Homo sapiens: one gene and its partners. The protein of the gene in region 1 purifies or fractionates together with the protein of each later gene. This does not show direct contact. Each region holds a gene or a part of one and is shown on either strand. Other genes may lie near its edges. The genes, in order: GRHL1, RREB1, ARID3B, KDM6A, TRPS1, WDR43 and TOP2B.

The links.
Region 2: the proteins of GRHL1 (region 1) and RREB1 purify together in Homo sapiens (co-immunoprecipitation; one large-scale study listed by IntAct). This does not show direct contact.
Region 3: the proteins of GRHL1 (region 1) and ARID3B purify together in Homo sapiens (co-immunoprecipitation; one large-scale study listed by IntAct). This does not show direct contact.
Region 4: the proteins of GRHL1 (region 1) and KDM6A purify together in Homo sapiens (co-immunoprecipitation; one large-scale study listed by IntAct). This does not show direct contact.
Region 5: the proteins of GRHL1 (region 1) and TRPS1 purify together in Homo sapiens (co-immunoprecipitation; one large-scale study listed by IntAct). This does not show direct contact.
Region 6: the proteins of GRHL1 (region 1) and WDR43 purify together in Homo sapiens (co-immunoprecipitation; one large-scale study listed by IntAct). This does not show direct contact.
Region 7: the proteins of GRHL1 (region 1) and TOP2B purify together in Homo sapiens (co-immunoprecipitation; one large-scale study listed by IntAct). This does not show direct contact.

Annotation. Positions count from the first base shown.
Region 1 is NC_000002.12:9,961,693-9,965,192, forward strand, and holds part of GRHL1 (grainyhead-like protein 1 homolog), read left to right. Parts: intron 1-762; coding exon 763-839; intron 840-2,193; coding exon 2,194-2,350; intron 2,351-2,542; coding exon 2,543-2,654; intron 2,655-3,500. UniProt on the Homo sapiens protein: Transcription factor involved in epithelial development. Binds directly to the consensus DNA sequence 5'-AACCGGTT-3'.
Region 2 is NC_000006.12:7,114,461-7,117,960, forward strand, and holds part of RREB1 (ras-responsive element-binding protein 1), read left to right. Parts: intron 1-3,500.
Region 3 is NC_000015.10:74,575,720-74,579,219, reverse strand, and holds part of ARID3B (AT-rich interactive domain-containing protein 3B), read right to left. Parts: intron 1-3,500. UniProt on the Homo sapiens protein: Transcription factor which may be involved in neuroblastoma growth and malignant transformation. Favors nuclear targeting of ARID3A.
Region 4 is NC_000023.11:44,879,688-44,883,187, reverse strand, and holds part of KDM6A (lysine-specific demethylase 6A), read right to left. Parts: intron 1-3,500. UniProt on the Homo sapiens protein: Histone demethylase that specifically demethylates 'Lys-27' of histone H3, thereby playing a central role in histone code. Demethylates trimethylated and dimethylated but not monomethylated H3 'Lys-27'.
Region 5 is NC_000008.11:115,602,976-115,606,475, reverse strand, and holds part of TRPS1 (zinc finger transcription factor Trps1), read left to right. Parts: intron 1-1,473; coding exon 1,474-2,603; intron 2,604-3,500. UniProt on the Homo sapiens protein: Transcriptional repressor. Binds specifically to GATA sequences and represses expression of GATA-regulated genes at selected sites and stages in vertebrate development. Regulates chondrocyte proliferation and differentiation.
Region 6 is NC_000002.12:28,943,167-28,946,666, forward strand, and holds part of WDR43 (WD repeat-containing protein 43), read left to right. Parts: intron 1-3,283; coding exon 3,284-3,333; intron 3,334-3,433; coding exon 3,434-3,500. UniProt on the Homo sapiens protein: Ribosome biogenesis factor that coordinates hyperactive transcription and ribogenesis. Part of the small subunit (SSU) processome, first precursor of the small eukaryotic ribosomal subunit.
Region 7 is NC_000003.12:25,602,408-25,605,907, reverse strand, and holds part of TOP2B (DNA topoisomerase 2-beta), read left to right. Parts: intron 1-1,037; coding exon 1,038-1,148; intron 1,149-3,500. UniProt on the Homo sapiens protein: Key decatenating enzyme that alters DNA topology by binding to two double-stranded DNA molecules, generating a double-stranded break in one of the strands, passing the intact strand through the broken strand, and religating the broken strand.

The DNA of each region.
Region 1 (3,500 bases):
CTGGAGAAAGAGAACCCCATACATAATCTTCTGTTGACCACAGGTAGATTCTCCTAGTCTGTTTTCAGCACTTCTCCCAGTGCCAAACAAGCTCCCTGGAGCTCATATAAAATGAGTTATTATATCTTTGCTTGGTGTTTCTTGGTTGGTAATGTAGTCAGGGAGAGCACAAATGCATTGTGTGAGGTTTACAAATTAATTCCAAATAGTTCTGGGGGTTTTATGGTGATGAATACCTCACTCAGCTAAAAGTTAGGGACTAAAGGTGTTAGAAACCATACTTAGTGACTTGGTGGGGTAAAGAGCATCCATCTCTGCGTATGGAGTTAGGGGCAGAATGTTAGCCTTTCCTGAGAAAATGCACCACATCTCTTCAGCTGTGGTGTGAACTTGATGCTGTGTCTTAACTTGGTATAATGATAGGGTGACTTTTAAAAGTCATGAAATTTTGGTTGCAGGTCCTAGTGTTTGAACAGAGTTGGGATGTGTGTGAAAGACAGAAAAGGGGGTCGTGAGTCAGAAGCACTTAGTGGGAGTACCTACACAGCTTGTTGTAATTTACTTGAGTGGCATATAAAAGTGGATATTTTCTCTGTTTTAATTTTTTAAGTATTTGTAGAATCAAAATTTTTACTCAAAAATAAATATGGAAAGGATAGTGGGTTGCTGTAAGCCACATACTTTTATGCGGTACCAGAGCTTGGTCTTTAGTAAGCATGATAACCAGTTAAATAGTTGTGGCTTATCACATTGATATTTCAGGTTTTCTTCCCCTCGGATCTCAGTCTGCGGATGCCTGGCATGAATTCAGAGGACTATGTTTTTGACAGTGTTTCTGGGTAATAGATGTCTTTTAATTTGATTTTTAATTTGCAGCTTTTATAACTTATTCCTTTCTTGTTAACTTGATAAATCAAAGGTGGCTTTAGCAGGCTTTCCCCTTATCTTACTACTTTTACTGTGGTACAGTCTTGGGTAGAGGACATCTGCTTCAGTGCTTTTAATTTTGAACTCTTTGAACTATGTTTCAAGTTTCCTTAATTCTTGGTGTTGGTGCTTTTTCTTTCTTTTGGATTCTTTATGTGATGGTAGTAGAATGGAATCTAATAGGAGAGATGAGGGGATTAAATTAGGTCTCTGAGGTCCTTTCTGTTGCCAAATATATATAATTAGGTGAGAATTTAGGAGTAATATCAAGTGATAAAAGCTTTTTTTTTTTAAAATCAGCCTCACTAATGATAAAATAAATGAAGTCAACTTTTTTCTGAGCTGACAACTTTCTTTTGACCTCACAAAATTGTATCTCACTCTGGGAGTATGAATATTTTCCAAGTTAATTAGGAACTCATATTTTGTTTTATGTGTTTTTTACATGTGTTATATTTTACAGTTTTAAAAGTGTCTAAGATTTTATGGGAATTGAGACTTCCCTTATAGATCTGCCTCAAGATGCAGGAGTCCCAAATGGAAATACCTTTAGGGTTTAGGATAGGGGTCAGCTAACTTTTTCTGTAAAGACTCAGAGAGTAAATATTTCAGGCTTTGTGGGCCATACAACCTCTGTATATTTTTGCAACTACCCCGGTCTGCCATTGTGCAAAAGCAGCCATAGGTAATGTGTAAACAAATGATGTGGCTATGTGCTAATAAAACTTTAGTTACAAAAATAGGTGTAATCTGCTGAGCCGTGGCCTGGGAAGGTTCTTAAACAACTTTAGGGGCATATATGAGTGGTAGTGTTAGGTAATAGGTAATGTCGAGAATTGTGGAGTGCCTGCCTATTAAAGACATTTAAATTACAAGTAGGAACAACAAAAAAATGCTATATAGGCCAAAAGGAATTTAGTCAGAGGAACACCAGCCACCTGTCTGAAACCTCTGCTGGATAAATATCAGATTGGCAGCATGTCTTGTGAGAAGTTCCTTCCAAAGTCCTTTCCACCTATCAGTATCTTTAATATCTCGAGCCCTCAAACTCAGGATGTCCGATTACTGACATCCATCACATCATAGAATTTTTAATCGGCAATTTGTACTTCCACCTCTGAGAGACTTGAGAATTTTTAGCTGCTGAGTACTTTTGTTTCAGATTTTCTTTAAGTGAAAAAGATAGCAAATGCTATTTATAATATGATGTATAGCAAGCTTCCACGAGAGTAGATTTAGAGACCTGTGACTTTTTTTGTCCTTTAGGAACAACTTTGAATATACCCTAGAAGCTTCAAAATCACTTCGACAGAAGCCAGGAGACAGTACCATGACGTACCTGAACAAAGGCCAGTTCTATCCCATCACCTTGAAGGAGGTGAGCAGCAGTGAAGGAATCCATCATCCCATCAGCAAAGTTCGAGTAAGTTCTGCTCTTAGTCCTGTTCTCTAGGAAAGCTAGTCAGAGCCTAACATTTCCAGGTCTGAAGCAGCTCTGAATGACCGCCTGAAATTGCAGCTTTAAGCCTTCACTGTAAAATATAGTACTAAATACGTTTTCCAAAACATACTCACCCTTTAGTGTCTTTATGTTGTAATGCATTCTCTTTCACAGAGTGTGATCATGGTGGTTTTTGCTGAAGACAAAAGCAGAGAAGATCAGTTAAGGCATTGGAAGTACTGGCACTCCCGGCAGCACACCGCTAAACAAAGATGCATTGACATAGGTAAGCAGCTCAAGAGCCCGCTTTTATTCCCAGAGGTGCAGCCATCCAGTTTTCTAAATCCAATTATTTTTGGCAGTGATCAGCTTCCTGCCGAAAGCATTTGAATTTTTATGCCAGCTACTGATCTGTTCCAAACACTGTCCTCGGCCTCCTGGAACCAGTGCTCTCACCATTGCTCCCATGCAGTAATGGGACATGTGCCCACGTGGTGGCTTTCCACAGGACACTAGGGCCAGAAGCCATGTAGCTGGCTAACCTGAGAATGTCCCCACTGTTCAGTCTGCAATTGCTTTAAGGGGTAATATCTTCTTTAAAAGATTCTGATTATTATTTGGAGATGATGGAGGTAGAGAAAAAAACAAGTAAAAGAAAGATATTGCTGCTGTGCAGTTGCCTAACAGTCTTCCCTAGTCACGTGCTAAACCGTGTAACTAACCTCTCTGTGGGCTGTAGTGGCAAACCTGTGCAAATCTGTATTTACTGAAGTAGCGTTACACAGACCTCTGTTCTTGCCATGTATGTAATTTTCATGTAAAACCATTGTCTGTATCACAGATGGCTGTTTAATATTAGTGTTACTTTTTTTCTTTACCTTTTGTAATGCTCTTGTTTCCTTTTCAGGAGAATGAGAACTCAGTTCTAATCTTGGTTCTACAGAGTAGTTTTGTGACCTTGGGACTGTTATTTAAACTTTTTAGACTTAAATTTCCTAATTGTGACATAATGAGATTGAATTAAATATGTCTAAGCTTGCCTCTATTACAAAAACTCTGTGATTCTTTTTCTTCGTATTTTGAACTTCTTCTAATCGAACAAAATGTTAATTTAAATTGTCCAGAGGTGATA
Region 2 (3,500 bases), on another chromosome or scaffold:
TTTCTGGTGGGGGGGGGGGCGGCAGCGGGGAGCTGCTACTGGCCTTTAGTGCATAGACCCCAAAGATGCTGTTCCACATCTTGGAGTGCACAGAACGACCCCCATACGTCAGCAGAGCTGAGGTTGAGAAAGCCTGCTTGAAAGGTACAGTAGTCGTGGCCTGGGTCTCATCTACAAGTCCACTGGGTGCGCTGCCTGTATTGCATGCGATATATTTAGAAATCTGAAATTCCATAAAGCAAGTAAGCTCTTATTTGCCTCTGAGGTACCATGGTTGGCAAGTTCGAAGTTTCACAGAAAATTTGGGGTTGAGGAAAATGTTAAGTGGCATTAAATATATTTGAAAACCCCGTAGTAAATGAAAATTCTAGAAGTCATCTACTTCTAAAACAAACTAGATTCATTGGCTTTGTGAAGCTGTTGTGGTCGATGGCTCAGCTTTCCCAGTCACCTCTTCAGTTATTTGGGAAACTTGCTCTGGTGCTGTCATCTGCAGCCTCCTTCATGTTCTAAGTTATGTGGAGTATACCTTTTTTTTTTTTTAAGTGTTTGAACTAGCCCTTACTTGCTTAACAGTTAATGTTTTTGCATTCGTAGTCTCCCTTGTTTTATTTTCTCAAGTTTTTGCAAAATTCTTACATAACCGTCTGCCGTTTTTATAGGGCAGTGTTTCTGAGCCGGGTGCTCTGTCCATACATCTCCTCTTGAGAGGGTGGATGGCTGCCAGCTGCTGTGGTTGGGAGGGATAGGGAGGGAGTAAGGGGATGCAGGGTAGGAGGCGGTGATTATTTTTATGTTAAGGGACCCCAGGCCTCAGACCAGAAATGTCTAATATAGTGTCAGGAGTGATCTTTTAGCCAGCAAGTGTTAACTGATCTGACCCTTGGCCTTCCCCCCCACCCCCCAGCCTATCACACAGACAGGAGGTAAGGAAACCATAGAGGGGAGAAGAAAACAGGGAGACAGAGATCGAATTCCAGAAAAGGAAGGGCTGCCAGTGGTAGGCAGAGTCACCCCTAGAGTGGCCTGGGCTCCCACTTTATAGACATGTGCAATACTTGAAGATAGCTCTTTTTACATCTAAACCAGCGGTTAGTCAGTGTCCCATTGGTGTCAGTCGCACTGATGGTGCTCAGGGCCATTGCTCTGCAGCCACCTTTGCAGTCCCATACGTGGTAACGAGTCCTGTTCCTGCAGAACGCACTCTGCGTTCTGGTGCTTTTCTGTCTTCTCGTCTAACCTATAAACTGCCAACTCCCAACTCTATATCTCCATTTACAACTTCTCCCAAGCTTGAACCTTTTGTCACCCTGATCACCCTGCAAGTACCTTACCCTGCAGGTACTTGTAAAAATGAAAGTCCTCTCCCTTCCTTCTGGAAGGTGATCACCATCCACCCAGCCTTCTAGGCCAGGAGTCTTACTGCCGTCCTGACGTATGTCTGTCCTGCCCCAATGTTCGATCAGTCACCAGGCCCTCTGCAAAACCACACTCCAGTCTGGCCCTGGCATTGGCTGTTCTATCGTTTCTGACCTAAGGCCCTCATCAAGTCACAAACGCCTCCCAAGTTAATTTCCTGCCACCAGTTTCTCCTTACTGCAGTTCATCCTCCACTCTGCTGCCAGAATCATCAGAACTAAAGCCGTGCGTGGTGTTTGCCTGCTTAAAAACATCTCTTGGCTCTCTGTTGTCTACAGGAAGAAATCCAAACTCCTTAACTTGGCATACAAGGAACTTCGTCTGCTTCCAAGCTGAATTTCTAGTCTCAGCTCTTGTCACTCTCTTCTACCCCACTGCCACACTGAATTGATTCTTACTGCCTCCTGTTGCCTGGATTGTTCATTCTGTTGCATCCCCATCCCCTTCCTTCAGCAATAAAAATTTTGTACTCTTTTTTTCAAGACCCAGCTTAAATACTACCTCTTCTATGGAGAATTAGCTCTTCTGTTGTGAGTAACTTTTACCCCCATCTGTCAAGTCTTGTCTGTTGTAATTTATCTCTTAACATGTTTCTCTCACTTCAAGAATATTTTCCCATCTCCTGCACCTAGAACGATTGCATAGTTGGTGCTCACTCACCACTGTGTGTTGATTTCTGATACAAAAATGAGAGTTTCTGAAGATTTTGGAGAATAGCCACATGTAATTTGGAAGCTAAGGCCTAAATAGTGCTACAAATTCAATGAAGGAAATAGACATGAACTAACGATTTCAGCATACCCATCATGCAGAAGGTGGTGCTAGGTGGGAAAGAATTAAGTTCTTTGGTGGGAAAGAATTTTGAATTACAGAAATTCTAAAATAAAAGTTGGCTCAGCTTAATGTAAAAGTGAAAAAAACTCCTTGTTAATGCCTGGTTGCACTAAAAGCTGTCACACTGGGGCCTTTACTAATTATAACCATTTTTCATGGCTCTTGATTTGAAGTTTACATTAAATAGGAGAGATGGGCACACAGATCAAAGACCAAAATCATTTCAGAGCTCCAATGTGTGGGCCCATTTTCTCTGCTTAGTTAGAGTTTTGTTTCATTAGTGGTATGAGTTAATAGGAGTGTTGGTCTGTGTATAATTTAGCTTCTCTTTTTTCCATTACTCGTAGGATTCAAAACAGAATACCAAGCCAGAAATCTACAGGGTATAAATCTTGCTTTATGTGTTTGTATGTGTCTGTGTATGTGCAGTATACACGTGGTAATAGTTGATTTTAGATCATATTTATAAAAATAATCATTTTCACTGTTTTAAGGGAGCTCCCTTTATTCTGACACTTCAGTGTAAAAAACAAAACATTTCTCTGAATATACAAAATCAAAATCTTAATTTTCTCATAAAAGAGGTAGATATGTCTTCAGAAATAGGGGAGATAACCAGGAAGATGGGGTGGGTGTTCTGAAACACAAAGGTGAACCATGTGAATAGGTTTCCTGTTTTTTTTTTTTTTTTTTTTTTTTTTTTTTTTTTTTTGAGACGAAGTGTTTTACTCTTGTCACCGAGGCTGGAGTGCAATGGCGCAGTCTTGGCTCACTGCAACCTCCGCCTCCCAGGTTCAAGCGATTCTCTTAGCCTCCCGAGTAGCTGGGATTACAGGCGCCTACCACCACACCCAGCTAATTTTTGTATTTTTTTTAGTAGAGATGGGGTTTCACCATGTTGGCCAGGCTGGTCTTGAACTCCTGACCTCAGGTGATCTGCCCACCTTGGACTCCCAGAGTGCTGGGATTACAGGCATGAGCCACCGCGCCCCACCAGATTTCCTTTTTAAACAATGAATTTTTATTTTTTATTTTTTTGGAGACAGGGTCTCTCTATGTTGCTCATGCTGGTCTCAAATTCCTAAACTCCTGGGATGGAGCAGTCCTCCTACCTCAGCCTCCCAAAGTGTTGAGATTACAGGTATGAGGTATGAGCCACTGAGCCTGACATGAATTTAAAAAAGCAAAAAGAAGAAAATGACATAGTGTGTGGAAGTTCTTGGTATTTTTTATACAAGATGAAATCC
Region 3 (3,500 bases), on another chromosome or scaffold:
CCCATCTGTTGCAGTCAATTCACCCAAACATGTTAACAAGCAAGAGATACAGCACAAAGCAGCAGTTATGGCCCGTCCCTGTCTCCCACTGGACAGCCATTTTATCACCTGCAGCTGCGGTCATTCGGGGCGGCCTGCTGTGTGCTGCATCCCTCAGAGCTGTCTGCTTCCTCTGTGGGCACAGCCTGCTGTGTCAAAGCTGCTGGCCCCTCTCACAGCCCACCTGGGTGTCTCCGGGCCTTTCAAACTCAGGCTATTTTCTTTCGTTTCTTTCTTTCTTTCTTCCTTGCATTTCCCTTTCCCTTTCCTTCTTTCTTTTGTTTTTTGAGACAAGGTCTCACTCTGTTGCCCAGGTTGTAGTGCAATGGCATGAACTCAGCTCACTGTAGCCTTGACCTTCCAAGCTCAAGTGATCCTCCCACCTCAGCCTCCAAAGTAGCTGAGACCACAGGCGCATGCCACCACACTCAGCTAATTAAAAAAAAATGTTTTTTTTGTAGAGACAGGGTCTCACTATGTTGTCCAGGCTAACTCAGGCTATTTCCAGTGACTCCTGTGATATCTACTGCTTACCTTTCATATTAGCTATGGAGGCCAAGTCCCTGACCTGCTGCTGAGGTCTATGAGGCTTTTCCTTGGTCCCAACTAGCAAGATCTGCCTCCTGTGTCCCCCAGACACTCCACAAGTGACAAGTCACAAATGTCTAAGGGCCCTTGTTCTCACCATTCTGTTAAGAACAAAGACAGCCGGGCTCGGTGGCTCATGCCTGTAATCCTAACACTTTAGGAGGCCGACGCGGGCGGATTACCTGAGGTTGGGAGCTCAAAACCAGCCTGGCCAACATGGTGAAATCCTGTCTCTACTAAAAATACAAAAAATTAGCCAGGTGCAATGGTACATGCCTGTAATCCCAGCTACTTGGGAGGCTGAGGCAGGAGAATAGCTTGAACCCAGGAGGTGGAGGTTGCAGTGAGCCGAGATGGTGCCACTACACTCCAGCCTGGGCTACAGAGGGAGACTTTGCTTAAAACAAAAAAAACAAAAAAAAACAAAAAAAAGACAGGCCAGGTGCGGTGGCTCATGTCTGTAATTCCAGTACTTTGGGAGTCGGAGGCAGGCGGATCACTCGAGGCCAGGAGTTTGAGACCAGCCTGGCCAACATGGTGAAACTGTTTTTACTAAAAAATATAAAAATTAGCCAGGCATGGTGGTGCATGGCTGTAATCTCAGCTACTTGGGAGGCTGAGGCACGAGAATCACTTGAACCCGGGATGGGAAGGTTGCGGTAAGCTGAGATCGACCACTGAACTCCAGACTGGGACTCTGTCTCAAAAAAAGGAACAAAGACAGCAAGCCTCACATGATTAAAACTGTAATCTGAGGCCCAGCACGGTGTGGTGGTTCATGCCTGTAATCCCAGCACTTTGGGAGGCTCAGGCAGTTGGATCACTTGAGCCCAGGAATTTGCTACCAGCCTGGGCAACATAAGGGCCTCGTCTCCACACACACACACACAAAAAAACAGAAAAATTAGCTGAGTGTGGTGGTGCACACCTGTAGGCCCAGATTCTCAGGAGGCTGAGGTGGGAGGATCACCTGAGCCTGGGGAGGTCAAGGGTGCGATGAGCCATGATTGCGCCACTACACTCCAGCTTGGGCAATAGAGTGAGACCCTGTCTCAAAAATAAATAAAATAATTAATTAAAATAAAAGTGCAATCTGCTCCCACCCCTCTTTTAAAATTTTCTTCTTCTTTTTTATTTCTGAGATGGAGTTTCGCTCGTCACCCAGGCTGGAGTGCAATGGTGCGATCTTGGCTCACTGCAACCTCCGCCTCCCGGGTTCAAGTGATTCTCCTGACTCAGCCTCCTGGGTAGCTGGGATTACATCTTCTTTTTTTTTTTTTTAAATTACAGGGATGGGGTCTTGTTACGTTGCCCAGGCTGATCTCAAACTCATGGTCTCAAGTGATCCTCCCACCTAGGCCTCCCAAAGTGCTGGAATTATAGGCATGAGCCACCATGCCCCACTCCCAACCCTCCTGAACCACTCACTCTAGTTCGGACTACCAGATAAGAGTTTTCTAGAAAGGAGATCGCTGGGAATAACAACCTCTACACTATCTTCCTGCCTCAGTCTCTCCTCTCTAGCCCAACTATACACTGCCACGGCAAGTTTCCTGAAAGCCAATATTTTGCCTTCAATAACTCAGCTATATCTACAGACTGAAGCGCTTTTTGGGCAAACATGGCTCTTCAGAGTCTCATGCCAGCTGACCCATCCAGGATGGCCCCTGGCTCTGGGCCATCAACAAGGGTTCTTCCAGCTACACCAGGGCCACATGTGTCACAGCATTTTTTCCTCCACCTCCATGGTTGGGTCTGATACACTAGAGCCACAGCTCTTCTCAGAGCCTTTCTCTGCACTGCAGGCCAGGGTGAGGCCCCAGCACTCACTCCTTTGGCACTCAGTCACAGGAAACAATGCTACCTAACACGGCTTGCTCTCATGTACCTGACTGGAGGTAAGATGATTTTCATAAAAAGTTTTTTTTTTTTTGAGACAGGGTCTCACTTTTTGGCCAGGCTGGAGGGCAGTGGCGCAATGTTGGCCTCCATGACGGCCCCCAAGTCCCCGGCTCGAGCAATTTGCCCACCTCAGCCTCCCAAGTAGCTTGGGACTACAGGCATGCATCACTATGCCTGGCTAATTTTGTTTTCATTTTTTGTAGAGAGAAGGTCTCACTATGTTACTGAGACTCACCTGAGCCTCCCACCTCAGCCTCCCACAGTGGTGGGATTACAGGCGTGAGCCACCACACTCAGCTAAGAGTTTTTCTTGCAGAGGATATTTTACATCTTTATTCTCTTTCTCATCTTTCCATGCCAGAGGGTCTCAACGGGACAATTTTGCCCTCCAGGGGACATTTATGACATCTAGAGACATTTTTGGTTGTTGTGACTGAGGGGCTGATATTGGTATCTAGTGGATAGAGGCCATGGATACTGCTAAACGTCCTACAGTAACCAGGTGCGGTGGCTCATACCTGTAATCCCAGCACTCTGAAAAGCCGAGGTGGGAGGATCACTTGAGGTCAGGAGTTCAATACCAGCCTGGGCAACATAGTGAGACCTCATTTCTACAGAACAAAAAAGTTAGCCAGGCATGGTGGTGCCTACCTATAGTCCCAGCTACTCAGGAGGCTGAAACAGGAGAAAGGCTTCAGCTCAGCACTTTGAGGCTGTAGTGAGCTATGATCGCACCACTGCACTCCAGCTGAGGCAACAGAGTGAGACCCTGTCTCAAAATTAAAAACAAAATCCTACAGTGCACAGGACAGTCTCCACAACAAGGACTACCCATCCCAAAGTCAACAGTGCTGAGGCTGAGAAACCTTTTATTAAAGTAACAAGTGGCAGACAGAACCGTTTCCCTTCTGTTGGTAATGCCAGCAAACAGTGAAATACCTGACGTAAGTGCTGAAGACAGGACAAAGATT
Region 4 (3,500 bases), on another chromosome or scaffold:
CTGAGACAGGAGAATTGCTTGAGCCTGGGAGGCAGAGGTTGCAGTGAGCCGAGATAGCATCGCTGCACTCAGCCTGGGTGACAGCTGACATAGTGAGACCCTGCCTCAAAAAAAAAAAAAAACTTAACTGCTCCAAAATGTGGAGAACCGTTGAAAACAGGAGTTCATTAAACTACCTTCAATACCTGTACATACTTTAAATGATGCATAATAAAAAGTTTTAAATGTTTTAATTACTCCATCATTTCAGAGCTCACAGCACTTTGCATGTATCTTTATTATTACACTTAATACATCATATGATCACTCAGTCTGTCAGCCTCTCCCAACAGACTGACTGCAGGACAGAGGCCAGGTCTTATTGGTTGCCCCAGAACCTGACACAATCCCTCACCCACAGCAGCTCAACAAATGTTTCACCAATCAATCAAGCAAAGCAAAAGCTTTTGTAGTTCTCATTCTGATATTTGAAATTCAGAAACCTAAAATATTTATTTAACTACTGTATCTTGAAAACAAATTTTCCCTAAAAATAAAAACTATCCAGACTCAAGCAACTATGATTCATAAAGTTCTCAGGAAAAATTACCTCTTGTGTCACATATTATGTAATATTCTATCACAGAACACTATAGCAGTATCAAAATACAAACAAAATTCACATCACATACTCAGCTAAACATGTTTTCTACTCATTTTCCAAGCAATTATTTCTTAACTTCCATACAGCAAAAAACAAGGTCCACAGATATTTGAGATTAAGAAATTATTTTACATGTAATAAGGGCATCACGGTTATGTTTCAGAAACAAACATCTATGGATTAAATGCTGTGACTGATTGCTGAGATGTGCTTCAAAATAACATGAGTGAGGGGCAAAATATATATAGATGAAACAGGACTGGTCATGAGTTGCAAACTATTAAAGCTGGGTGATGGTTGATTTGCAATACTTTCTGAAAACACTGAAAATTTTTCCTAATAAACTTTTTTTTCAAAAAGAGAGAAAAATCTAATGAACACGTAATAAATTTGTAGTTTAAAAATAACCCTTTGTCTAAAACAATTTCTTCCACTGTTCTAAACTAAAATGAATTAGATGACCTTATATAATACCCTTAAGTATAACCCCAACTTTCTTCCTGAGAATAAACTTAGCAGCAGCATCTTCTATTTATTCTAACAAAGGCAAAATACTCAGCCAGGCATGGTGGCTCACGCTTGTAATCCCAGCACTTCAGGAGGCCGACGCGGGGGGATCAACTGAGGTCAGGAGTTGGAGACCAGCCTGGCGAACACAGTGAAACCCCATCTCTACTAATAATACAAAAATTAGCTAGGCGTGGTGGTGCACACCTGTAATGTCAGCTACTCAGGAGGCTGAGGAAGGAGAATCGCTCGAACCCTGGAGACGGAGGTTGCAGTGAGTCGAGATTGCGACATTGCACTGCAGCCTGGGCAACAAAAGTGAAATGCCATCTCAAAAAAAAAAAAAAGACAAAATAGTACCACAGAGAAAATTACAAAAAGCATACAAGAATACATTCACAATGGAACACCACCAACAGTTTTAATAATATACAGAAGTAAACAAATGATGGAATATAAGGAAGAAATAGGTAAGAGAAAAAATAATAAAAGCTTATAGAAGAAAGTTGCAAGCAGTCTACAAATTAGCTCAGAAACCTAAAACTGTCTAACAAGGGATTACTCCCACCCTTCCAGGTGACAGTTTTTTTGTTGTTTTTTGTTTTTGAGATGGTGTCTTGCTCTGTCGCCAGGCTGGAGTTCAGTGGCACGATCTCGGCTCACTGCAATCTCCATCTCCTGGGTTCAAGCAATATTCTCCTGCCTCAGCCTCTCGAGTAGCTGGGATTACAGGTACGCGCCATCACACCCAGATAATTTTTGTATTTTTAGTAGAGACGGGGTTTCACCATGTTAGCCAGGCTGGTCTCGAGCTCCTGACCTCGTGATGCCCGCCTCGGCCTCCCAAAGTGCTGGGATTACAGGCATGCGCCACCGCGCCCGGCCCAGGTTACAGTTCTTAATCAGGTCCCAAGTATCAGCCTGTGCCAAATCAGACTCAAAATAAAGTCAGCAATGAAATGCTAAAGATCAAAATGAAGAATGAGCGCAGTGACTGTCACAAAGCCATCTAAAACACAAAGAAATAGGACCTAATTGGGTACATCTCTACTCCATTCACTCCTACCCTCACTGAAGGAACATCAAGTTCAAAAGTATCCCAACTTCAGACTGTAATTAAAATGCAAGAAAGGCCTTTACAAGTATCTCTTCTAACTATAGACATGGTAGTTTAAACCCATTTTTAGTCAACCAAAATATAACATTCTGGTGTACTATCAGAGTACTTTTTTTTGTTTGTTTGTTTGAGATGGAGACATGCTCTGTTGCCCAGGCTGGAGTGCAGTGGCGCGATCTCGGCTCACTGCAACCTCCGCCTCCTTGGTTCAAACAATTCTCCTGCCTCAGCCTCCCAAGTAGCTGGGATTACAGGCGCCCACCACCACGCCTGGCTAATTTTTTGTGTTTTTAGTGGAGATGAGGTTTTGCCACTTTGGCCAGGCTGGTCTCGAACTCCTGACCTCAGTTGATCCATCCGCCTCAGTCTCCCAAAGTGCTGGGATTACAGGCACGAGCCACCACGCCTGGCCTTATTGTATTATTTTTAAGGTAATATATGTCTACGGTGTTAAAAAAAAAAAAAAAAGCAGTACAGAAATCTATAAAACAGTTTAAAATCTCCCCTCCTTCTCACCCCAAAAGTGTCTTGTACTCCAAGATGACCATTAAGTCATCCTGAGTGTCCTTCCAAACTCTGTCAGAGAATTTAAATTGACCCATGAACACTCATTTAAGAATCTCAAGTTAAGAACTCATAACAAGGTAAATATTACTACAAAATGAAATCAAAGAAGGACAGAACACACAGCAGATCATCCTTTGAACATCTGCTAAAAGCTAAAATGTGATTTTTTTTTTTTTTTTTTGAGATGAAGTCTCGCTCTGTCGCCCAGGCTGGAGTGCAGTGGCACCATCTCAGCTCACTGCAACCTCTGCCTCCCAGGTTCAAGCAATTCTCCTGTCTCAGCCTCCCAAGTAGCTGGGACTACAGGTGCACGCCACCACGCCCGGCTAATTTTTATATTTTTAGTAGAGACGTGGTTTCACCATATTGGTCAGGCTGGTCTCAAACTCCTGACCTCAAGTGATCCGCCCACCTCAGCCTCCCAAAGTGCTGGGACTACAGGTGTGAGCCACCACACCCAGCCTTAAAATGTGATTTTTAAATCATGTTTTCCTAAACAAAATTATAAGATGCCTTGCTAACATCTAAATCAAGAAATACCATCTCCAAGAAACACAATCAACAAACAATCCCCATCTTTAAGAGCCATTCTAACTTGTGAATTGTTAAATTTACCTTTCTCATAAACTTTCAGAATATTTCACATTTTTCTTCTCCCAAAGATGG
Region 5 (3,500 bases), on another chromosome or scaffold:
CCTTTGATTAAAGGCTGTGGAAAACTTCTGTAAGATCCTATCTTAATGTACAGTAAATGTTGAGTTGTTTATATATTAATGCACATTTCTTAGAACTATAATACTGGACATAAATTTGGAGGTTGCCCCAGTTGAAGAAGCTATTGGCCAGAGAGATTAAGTAATTTGATCAAGGTCACATCTCTTTTTAATAGCAAAAAGAATACTTCAATCTTAGTCCTGTACAATAGAGGTACAAACATATCTCTCAGTGTACTACAGCAATATTATTTGCATTTCAAATAGAGCCTTTACGTGATTTTGAGATGCCTGAGACTTTTCTCATGCAGTGATTTGGATATGAACAGCGATCACACGTGTCATTTTTGAACAGCTGTTGAAGAAGGCAGAAGATGATTATGCCACTTGCTTAATATATTACATCTGGTTGCTGGGAAAATTTAAAAATTCCCTGGTGGTTGGAAGAGAAATTGTTTTCCCTTTTTGGAGTATTTCATTCAAAAAACTCTATTTTAACTCTGAATTTTGGCTGCTCAGTGGTGGCTTAATTGTACTGCCTATTGAGGTGCACACTGAGAATGGAGGAAGGATTTTATGCAAAGTGCCCTTTGAAGGCTTTCATAGTCCTGATTCCATGTAATTTCATAATTTGGGAAAGAAAGCAGAGTTGTAGTGATTTTTTATGGTGGAATTATTTTATTTTACCATTCAGACATCATGACCTACTCATGTGAGAAGTTGGGAGCCCTTTGCAATGAAACAGAACCTTAATCAAATAAGGCATGGAAGATTTTTCTTTTTTTTTGTTTGTTCTAGATGGGGAAACATTCAAAATTCTTTATTTACACGGTTCTTCTTTGCTAGTATTTCCTGCATACTCAATTCATCTTTTTGTTTGTTTCACTGTGCTTTAATTATAAGCCATTTTGGGTGGTCATTGGAGCACCTTTATTTTACCTAAAACAGAGACCTCATCTTTGCCTGCAGCCTCATTGCTGTAGGAACTGAACAGAATATTTCCTTGGAGAACATCTGCATTGAGTAATTTTTGAGCAAGTGCCTCTAGTTTTGACAGTAACGCTTCACCTTTTGAAAAGAAATCCCATGTGATTTGGATGCTTCTGTAGGAATGTGATTTGAAGGAGGCAATAGTAAAATGTACTGTGTTGAAAATTGTTTTCTTAGTTTAAAAAATGTATTATTAAGTCTTTCAAATTATAGTGCATTTATTACTTACCTTCACCTGTTACTTTGGCCTACAGTGTATAACATAATGAGCCTCTCAAAGAGTAGCTGTTGAGAAATGAAGAGTGAATTTATTTGGCTCTGATTATTCAAGTGATTTCATAATAAGCAGGAGTACTATTGTATTTTTTGATGTGGAATACTTGGCAGTACCCTCCCCCTCCCCTGCAGAGGGCCCATTGAATTAATGACACCTTGGAAGTAAAGTCCATTTCTTCTGTTCTCCAGGTGACTTCAGGTGGAACATTCATTGGCATTGGACGGAAAACACCAGATTGCCAAGGGAACACCAAGTATTTCCGCTGTAAATTCTGCAATTTCACTTATATGGGCAACTCATCCACCGAATTAGAACAACATTTTCTTCAGACTCACCCAAACAAAATAAAAGCTTCTCTCCCCTCCTCTGAGGTTGCAAAACCTTCAGAGAAAAACTCTAACAAGTCCATCCCTGCACTTCAATCCAGTGATTCTGGAGACTTGGGAAAATGGCAGGACAAGATAACAGTCAAAGCAGGAGATGACACTCCTGTTGGGTACTCAGTGCCCATAAAGCCCCTCGATTCCTCTAGACAAAATGGTACAGAGGCCACCAGTTACTACTGGTGTAAATTTTGTAGTTTCAGCTGTGAGTCATCTAGCTCACTTAAACTGCTAGAACATTATGGCAAGCAGCACGGAGCAGTGCAGTCAGGCGGCCTTAATCCAGAGTTAAATGATAAGCTTTCCAGGGGCTCTGTCATTAATCAGAATGATCTAGCCAAAAGTTCAGAAGGAGAGACAATGACCAAGACAGACAAGAGCTCGAGTGGGGCTAAAAAGAAGGACTTCTCCAGCAAGGGAGCCGAGGATAATATGGTAACGAGCTATAATTGTCAGTTCTGTGACTTCCGATATTCCAAAAGCCATGGCCCTGATGTAATTGTAGTGGGGCCACTTCTCCGTCATTATCAACAGCTCCATAACATTCACAAGTGTACCATTAAACACTGTCCATTCTGTCCCAGAGGACTTTGCAGCCCAGAAAAGCACCTTGGAGAAATTACTTATCCGTTTGCTTGTAGAAAAAGTAATTGTTCCCACTGTGCACTCTTGCTTCTGCACTTGTCTCCTGGGGCGGCTGGAAGCTCGCGAGTCAAACATCAGTGCCATCAGTGTTCATTCACCACCCCTGACGTAGATGTACTCCTCTTTCACTATGAAAGTGTGCATGAGTCCCAAGCATCGGATGTCAAACAAGAAGCAAATCACCTGCAAGGATCGGATGGGCAGCAGTCTGTCAAGGAAAGCAAAGAACACTCATGTACCAAATGTGATTTTATTACCCAAGTGGAAGAAGAGATTTCCCGACACTACAGGTGAGGCATGGGGGGTGGGGTCGGGAGGAATATACAAATAAAATAATAGAAAAAATCCATAGAAAGAGGGCTGAACCGGGAATTGTTGAGAGTGATTCCAATGACTTGGGGAAGTTATAGGAGAAGACCACATAAAAGTTCATCACAGATTTGCAGGTGATATAGTTACAGCTGTGATCACTGTAGATTTTAATTTGGTTCCTTCTTTTGGACTGTATGCTCATGTTTCATACTTGTGTTATACCATTTACTGATTGTCTTTTTAAATTCACAGTGATTCTAATAATGCTGATGAGTTTACTAATTTACCGTAGTCCATTTATTTATCCTTACTAAATATGACTCCACATCCTATATTTTTTTGACAGAGCTAAATGAAAGATGCTATTGTAAATATATCCTATTCTCTATTCTGCAAAAAAATTTTGAGAACCTGTTGCTCATTTTTATTTTAAAATGAGATTATATATTCTTCTGGCTTTGAACAATTCTGCAACATCCTTGTTTAGCATACAAACAGTAATCTAAAGGTGAGAATTTTTGTACTATGTGTGATTTTGGATGTAGACTTGCTCCTCCAAGCAGGTAAAACTGCTTGAGTTATTCCAGATTCTTAAATGGATGTGGGAAGTTTGTGTTTTCCTTCTGCTTTCACTCTATTCTCTTTATAAACATTAACTTTCCCAGTTAATCTTTTATAATATCTAGAGATAAGCATAGGATATGTATCTTTATTTCATGTATGCATTCATTCTTTAATTAATTGATTTCAAAAATCCTATTGTACCAGGCATTGAATATACAAGAGAAGACATAGTCAGTGCCCTCATGGAACTTACAGTTTAGTAGGGAAGATGAGACACTTAGATGATTACAAGAGTAATAAGTGTCATAAAA
Region 6 (3,500 bases), about 19 Mb from region 1:
TGTTGCTCAGGCTGGAGTGCAGTGGCTCGAGGTCAATCATAGCTCACTGCAGCCTCAAACTCTTACACTCAAGCGATCATCCTGCTTCAGCCTCTAGAGTAGCTGGGACTGTTGAGCCACCATGCCTGGCCAATTTTCTTTTTTTAAAGGTAGAGATGAGGTCTCTTTGTTGCCCAAGCTGATCTTGTACACCGTGGCCTCAAAAACGGTCTTCTCGCGTCAGCTTCCCAAAGTGCTGGGAATAGAAGCATGACCCACAACACTGGGCTGTCCTTTTTGTCATGTACTGGCAATTTAGTCATTTTATGAGCCAAGTATAATCTTGATAACAAAACCTGGAAATGTCAAAAAGGGAACATTTTAGATCATCCTCAAATACCCTGAGTAGCAAATTGATTATAGAAGTGTAGGGTTACAGAGTTAATGTGCAATAATAGACAGCTAGACCAATAGATTGGCAATAGCTACCCCTGAAAAACCCGTAGTTCTGTGGACTCTTGGTGTGTTTATTGATGGTGTGTATTGTATCATTGTGGAGAAGATAGCCTGCTCAGTAAGTTGTTAGAAACACTGATAATTTATATGGAACAAAAAATTTTACCATTATCACATCACACATCACATTCCATATTGTGAGAAATGGATAAATTTGAAAGAGTGAAAATGGTCAGGTGTTGGCCATGATTTGGGAAATGGGAGCTCATGCTGTGGTGGGAGTACATGTGCATTCTTTTTAGAGAGCAACTTTGTAATCTCAAAGTTGACAATTTGCATATCCTTCCATTCATCAAGTGCAGTCCCAAAGTGATCCCAAAGTGCTTGTGTGTATCCCAGTGACCAATACTTCTCCAAGTATGAACAGAGGACCTGTGGGGATGCCCAGAACTCTTTGAGCGGCTCATGATGTCCTCCGCTTTTCAATCGGTCATCTGTGGGAGGCTAGATTTTCTTCATATAGTTCAAATAAAACAACATATCCAAAAAATAGAGTGGAGAAGCAGATATGAGAAGTTTTTAATAGTGCCATTCTACTTAGTAGAATTTGTTGTTGTTTTGGAAATTCCATTTTTCAATTTTAGTGTATGTGCTGCCGAAGAGAGCACAGAAATACTGTTTTTCATTAAATTGATTTGTGTTAACATGTAATGGATGGGCATTTGTAAACAGATTAAATATTCTTAAATTTAAAAATTGAATTTGAATGTGATAAATATAGATAGACTTTTCCCACATAAACAAAAACTTTTTGGAGACCTCAGTTTTTTAAGAATGTGAAAGCATTTTAAGGCTAAAAGGCTTGACAACATAGCTTTAAAACATATATGTAGAGATTATATAAGTATGTTCATTGCAGCCTTTATAATTAAGAAAAAGACTTGTGAACAACATAATTCTTCATTAGTGGGAGCATGTTTAAAATGGTTTATTCCTTTAGCATAACACTACATTGGTGAGAGTGCCTGGAGTTGAGATCGAGTTAACACGCATAAGTTTGATTACAAAACCAAGTCAAAAAATGATACCTTCTGTGTAGCATCGTGTAATTGTATTAGTAAGCAAAATAAGGGTGGCTTGAACATAAGCTCCGCGATACTGCAACATTCGATTTGATAACTGAGGTGGCTACTAAACGACTAACGGGTGGCTAGTGTAGACAGCGAAGCTGGACAAAGGGATGATTTACCTCTCCGGCCAGGCGGAGCCAGATAGCACGGCACTTCATCACGCTGCACATAACAGGGCGCAATTTAAAACTTAGGGATCCTGGATTTGGTACATTTTCCATTTAATATTTTTGGATTGCAGTTGCCAGGGGAAACTGAAACTGGGGAAAAGGAACACATATTGGGGGAACTGCTGCATATGTCTTTCATGAATATGTACATGTGTAATTCATGGGTAGTATGATGTATGTGTTATAACAGCATACTGGAGAATGAGAAGCTCACAATAGTGGTTTCTTTTGGGGAATGGGCTTAGGGAGATGGGCATGTAAGGGAACTTCATCTGGAGATAATGATTTATTTTCTTAAGAAAAAGTAGATAGAAGAAGAATGTTAGAATATCTTAAAAAAATAGGAATCCCATTCTGTATTATTGGATAACATTAGCACACCTAATGAAATCAATTCCTTAGTTTTATCCAATGCCCAGTTTATCTTCATCTTTCTCCAGTTATCCGTAAAATATCCTTTAAAGCTGTTTTTCCCAAACTAGACTCGAGTTTTGCATCATGGGGTTGAATCTGGCTACTGTGTTTCTGAAGACTCTTTTTAGTCTTTAAGAACTCCCTTTTTCATGACATGGACTTGGTGAAGAGACTGGGAAGTGTATTTCACAGAATGCCCCACCTTATGTTTGTGGATTTGCTTCCTTTTGGTTTCTTTTAATTTGCTCCTCTAAGCTACAGTTCCTTTAAACTGGATGTGAGGCCTAAAGGTTTGATTGGATTTTATTTTTGGAGGGTTGCATCAATGCTGATCGTTCATATTGCAGCACACTAAGAACCACATTGTGCCTGTTATCAGTTTTTTCCTCTCCATTGTGAGATATATCTTCCTTAGTGCTTAGAAAATAATCTAGCTGTGTTAATTTTTGTTTTAACGTTTGCATGTTTTCCCCCAACAATCATACATCTAATATATCAGTTGCTAATATTTCATTATTAGTACTTTATGGGTTAAATAATGCTAATTCTTCCATTTCGTTTATAAGCCAGCTTTTCTGTGTTGAATTTTTCCTCATCCACTGGGGCTATTTGGTGGCCCTGATAGGGCTTAGTATTTAAAGATGAGATTTTTGTAAGGGTTTGGCTAGTTGGTTTGGACCGGTGAGATCTTGAAGGAATAATATAATGAATATACTTTTATACATGTAAGAATAAATTAGCCAGGTGTGGTGGCTCATGCCTATAATCCCAGCACTTTGGGAGGCAGACGTGAGCGGATCCTTTGAGTCCAGGAGTTTGAGATCGGCCTGGGCAACATGGTGAAACCCTGTCTATACCAAAAATTAGCTGGGTGTGGCGGCTACTCAGGAGGCTGAGGCAGGAGCCTGAGGCTTGAACCTGGGAGGCAGAGGTTGCAGTGAGCCAAGATTGCTCCACTGCACTCCAGCCTGCAAAAAAAAAAAATAATAAAATAATGTTATTTCTTAGTTGGATGATTGCTAAATATAAATAATATTTCTAAAAGTAAATTCAGGAATCTGGTTCTGCTTAATTTCCAGGCTGTACCCTCTGTTTTGTTCTAAAATTAAGGCTGGGTTCTTTCTCCCCTTACAGAGTCTTCTGAAGAGGAGTCTGATGATGAAATAGCAGATAAGGATTCTGAAGTGAGTGATTTGTTCCCTGTATATACATCGGCCTTTATATCCTCATACTCTGTAAGAATGAGACCTTCATGAATGCTTTCCTTGTTGGTATTTCGACTAGGATAATTGGGATGAAGATGAGGAGGAGAGTGAAAGTGAAAAAGATGAGGACGTTGAAGAGGAAGATG
Region 7 (3,500 bases), on another chromosome or scaffold:
CTCAAGATAATAAGGCTTCTTTACTTTTTCTGAGGTGATTCCTAACTAATTGGTCAAAATAGGCATTATGGAAGCATTTAGGTGGACAGGCAAATGCTTATCTGTGTTTATGGGTGTGAGTGTATGTGTAGTGTTTTAATGAGAGAAAAGAAATAATGAAATTTTGAAAGCTTGAAATTTGATTTTCATGGCAATGTGAATGTATATACGACAGTTTTCTAAATCTGTAAGGGCACCAGTGTGATTGCAGATTGGTTGTTACCTGAGAGATTAAAACCGTCATAAGAACAAATTTAATCAGTGTGTATACTTCTTGTTTCGTATTTTTTTTGTGTATGGAATTTTTAAGGTCACTTAATTGATTCACTATCATTTTTTAATACACACATCTATACATTTAGACATATTTGGTACATATTCTATATGTATACGTACTCATTTTTGACAGTGTGTCAAAAGAGTTGTGTAAACATATTTATTTACATCCAAGTAGCTATTTTAAAAGTTTGTGCTATGGTGTTAGGGAAGAACGCATTACACTAATTTGAGTGCAAGAGTAAACTGAAGGTAAGCCTGTCTGCCTTTTAAATTAGTCTTCAAAAATTTATTTAAAAATAGGAATACTTACTATTCTTTTAGATTTAAACATTATTACTGATATTCCTGAAATGGTTAATAGTATTATTTGTGTAGGTACTAAAATAATACAGTGGGACATTTTCATATCTCATTTTAAAATAAATTGGCAGCATGTATTTTTGAATTGGTCAGTTATGTTTTAAATATTTAGCATTTGGGACTTTTAATTTTTACTACTTTATGCACTTCTGTGTTATTTCACCACATAGTTAACATTTTTGGTGTATAACTGATACATTTTATTTTTAGCTGTTTGTATATTGTGGATTATTTGGTCACAAAATAGTAACATAAGATCAATTGTCTAGCTAAAGGGAAGTCATCAGTTAAAAGAGTCAAAGTTTACTGAGAGATCTTTATAACATCTCTTTACTAAAAGAAGGCTTTGCAATTTTTAGATTCAGCTAAATTTGACAGTAATGAAGAAGATTCTGCTTCTGTTTTTTCACCATCATTTGGTCTGAAACAGACAGATAAAGTTCCAAGTAAAACGGTAGCTGCTAAAAAGGGTATGTACTTATATTTGATTGAGTTAAGCATTGGATAGAGATAGTTAATGTAAAAGGAAATGTAATTTAATTTGAAACTATTTGCATTTTTTTATCATAAAACAATTAAGAAGTATAAGTGCTTATAAGGAGAACCTCTCGTTTTCTAGCCATCTGAGGGCGTTAATAAAATTTCTGTAAGACTTAATTTTAAAGCTGTTGTAATTATAAAATAATCCCGTGCATTACTATCTAAAGATAGCTTTCTACAAAAGCTCCCTTGTGGTTAGGTTGTAATGGAGATTAAAATTTTGTCTTGCTAGTAGCTTGCTTCTGTTATCTATGTTGATCATGACTCAACTCCTTATGTGGAGGGATTGGTCAGCTCAGTTGAGGTCCTCTTTTTCTATGTGAGTCATGCAGCTTCTCTCTTTTTCACAGCCTTAGATTGGCCACAAAACACTTTGAGTTGATTAATGAATCTCTTACTAGTACCAAGATATATGTACCGTGGTCTTTTTGAAAGAGGTCAGTATTTGTGCTTTGTGTTTGAAGGATGACACTTAAAAAAAACCCCACAAATCTAATTGAGATGTGTGCTATTTAAGACAGCAAGTAAATAATATGGATTGTTCCCTCAAGGATTTTAAAAATTCACAACAGACAACATCATTACAGACACATGTATTGAATGTAGCAGAACAACAATTTTGAAAAGTCCTGCTTATTCTGAATGCAGTAGAACCATATTGAGAAACTGGTTATTTACAAGAGTCTCTGTAGCCAACACACTGGGTGACCTACCCATGTCCCTTACCACTTAGTGCATATTGGGCAATATCTGCCTTTCGTTGCCTGAGGACTTCCTCTTTGCCACTGTGCTGGAATATTAACACCCCCCTGCTCCCAGCTGCCTTTAACTAGCAGATTGAGGAAAGTTGGTCTATAAATATCTCAGTGTCCTTGCCTCTCATGTGAGCCAACTGTGGGATGTGTGTTTCACACTGGGACTCAAAAATTTCTTATGGAATTAAGCTCCTAGAGTGATGATTGGCTTGGTAACTTACCTATTACTGGCTGCCTTCTCTTCATTGTCTCATTTTTGTCTCCCCCTCCTTTATCTCTCAAATAAATACTTATACTTGAATCCATACTCTAGGATTAGGCAGATTGGCCCAAATCTGGGGAACCCACATTGAGATGGACCCTATAATTTCTCTTTTTTAAAAAAACAATCAGGCTGGGCGCAGTGGCTCACACCTGTAATCCCAGAACTCTGGGAGGTCGAGGCAGGCAGATTGCTTGAGGTCAAGAGTTTAAGACCAGCCTGGCCAACATGGCAAAACCCCATCTCTACTAAAAATACAAAAATTAGCCTGGTGTGGTGGCGTATGCATGCCTGTAGTCCCAGCTACTCAGGAAGCTGAGGCACAAGAATCGCTTGAACTTGGGAGGCAGAGGTTGCAGTGAGCTGAGATGGCACCACTGCACTCCAGCCTGGACGGTAGAGTGAGACTCCATCTCAAATAACAACAACAGAACAATCAAAAAGCACCTTTAAAAAATAATCTTCATATGAGCATCTTATAAACACCCTGAAAACTTGGGAGCCGTATTACTTCCTGAAACATACCCCGTTTCCTTCATCAAACTGTTCACCCATATTTAACCTAATGAGTTTAGCATGACCAAAAAGCTAGATTATCATGGTACCTATCCTACTTGCTTCCTTCTTCAGTAGCTGAACTGGCCTTGTCTAAGTTGAATAGGTAGACTGCCTGTGTGGTGTGATTTCAGGGACCCCAGCAAGTCCTCAGCTTTCCTTTAGCCTCCCTTACGAAATATAATTCCAATAAAATATCATTTCAAGAAGAGGATGCATCATATCCCTCTGTGGGATTGTCTATGTTAACTCCAAATTGCGTATGTTACACAAGTTAAATTCTGTAGTTCCAATAGTTTACAGCAGAAAGGCAGCTATAGTACTCAGATATCTGACCTGTTTGCCTGGTAGAATTGAAAGTGCCATGTAACTCCAAGCCAAGGAAAAAAAGTGGTTCCTAGAACACCTGGCTAAGTTTATACTCCCTGCTAGGAGCTGCCCTGTGGTTCTTGTGGTAGATATAGTCATGAAGACTCAGGTGGGAAAAGCCACACAATCTGGGTGCCACTTTCCTAGGGCTCCTCCTGCTCTTGGCTAACGAGGGGCCTTATTTGTAGTGTCTCAAATTGCGACTGGAATACATTTTCCATAGAATCAGTGTAGGTTTTTTTTTTTTTTTAAACAAAGTCTACAGTTAATATATTTTCTTCCAAATTAGGTTTTCTTAATTACAAAAAGTGATTTATCAGTTTTTTTTTTTTCTTTTTCTT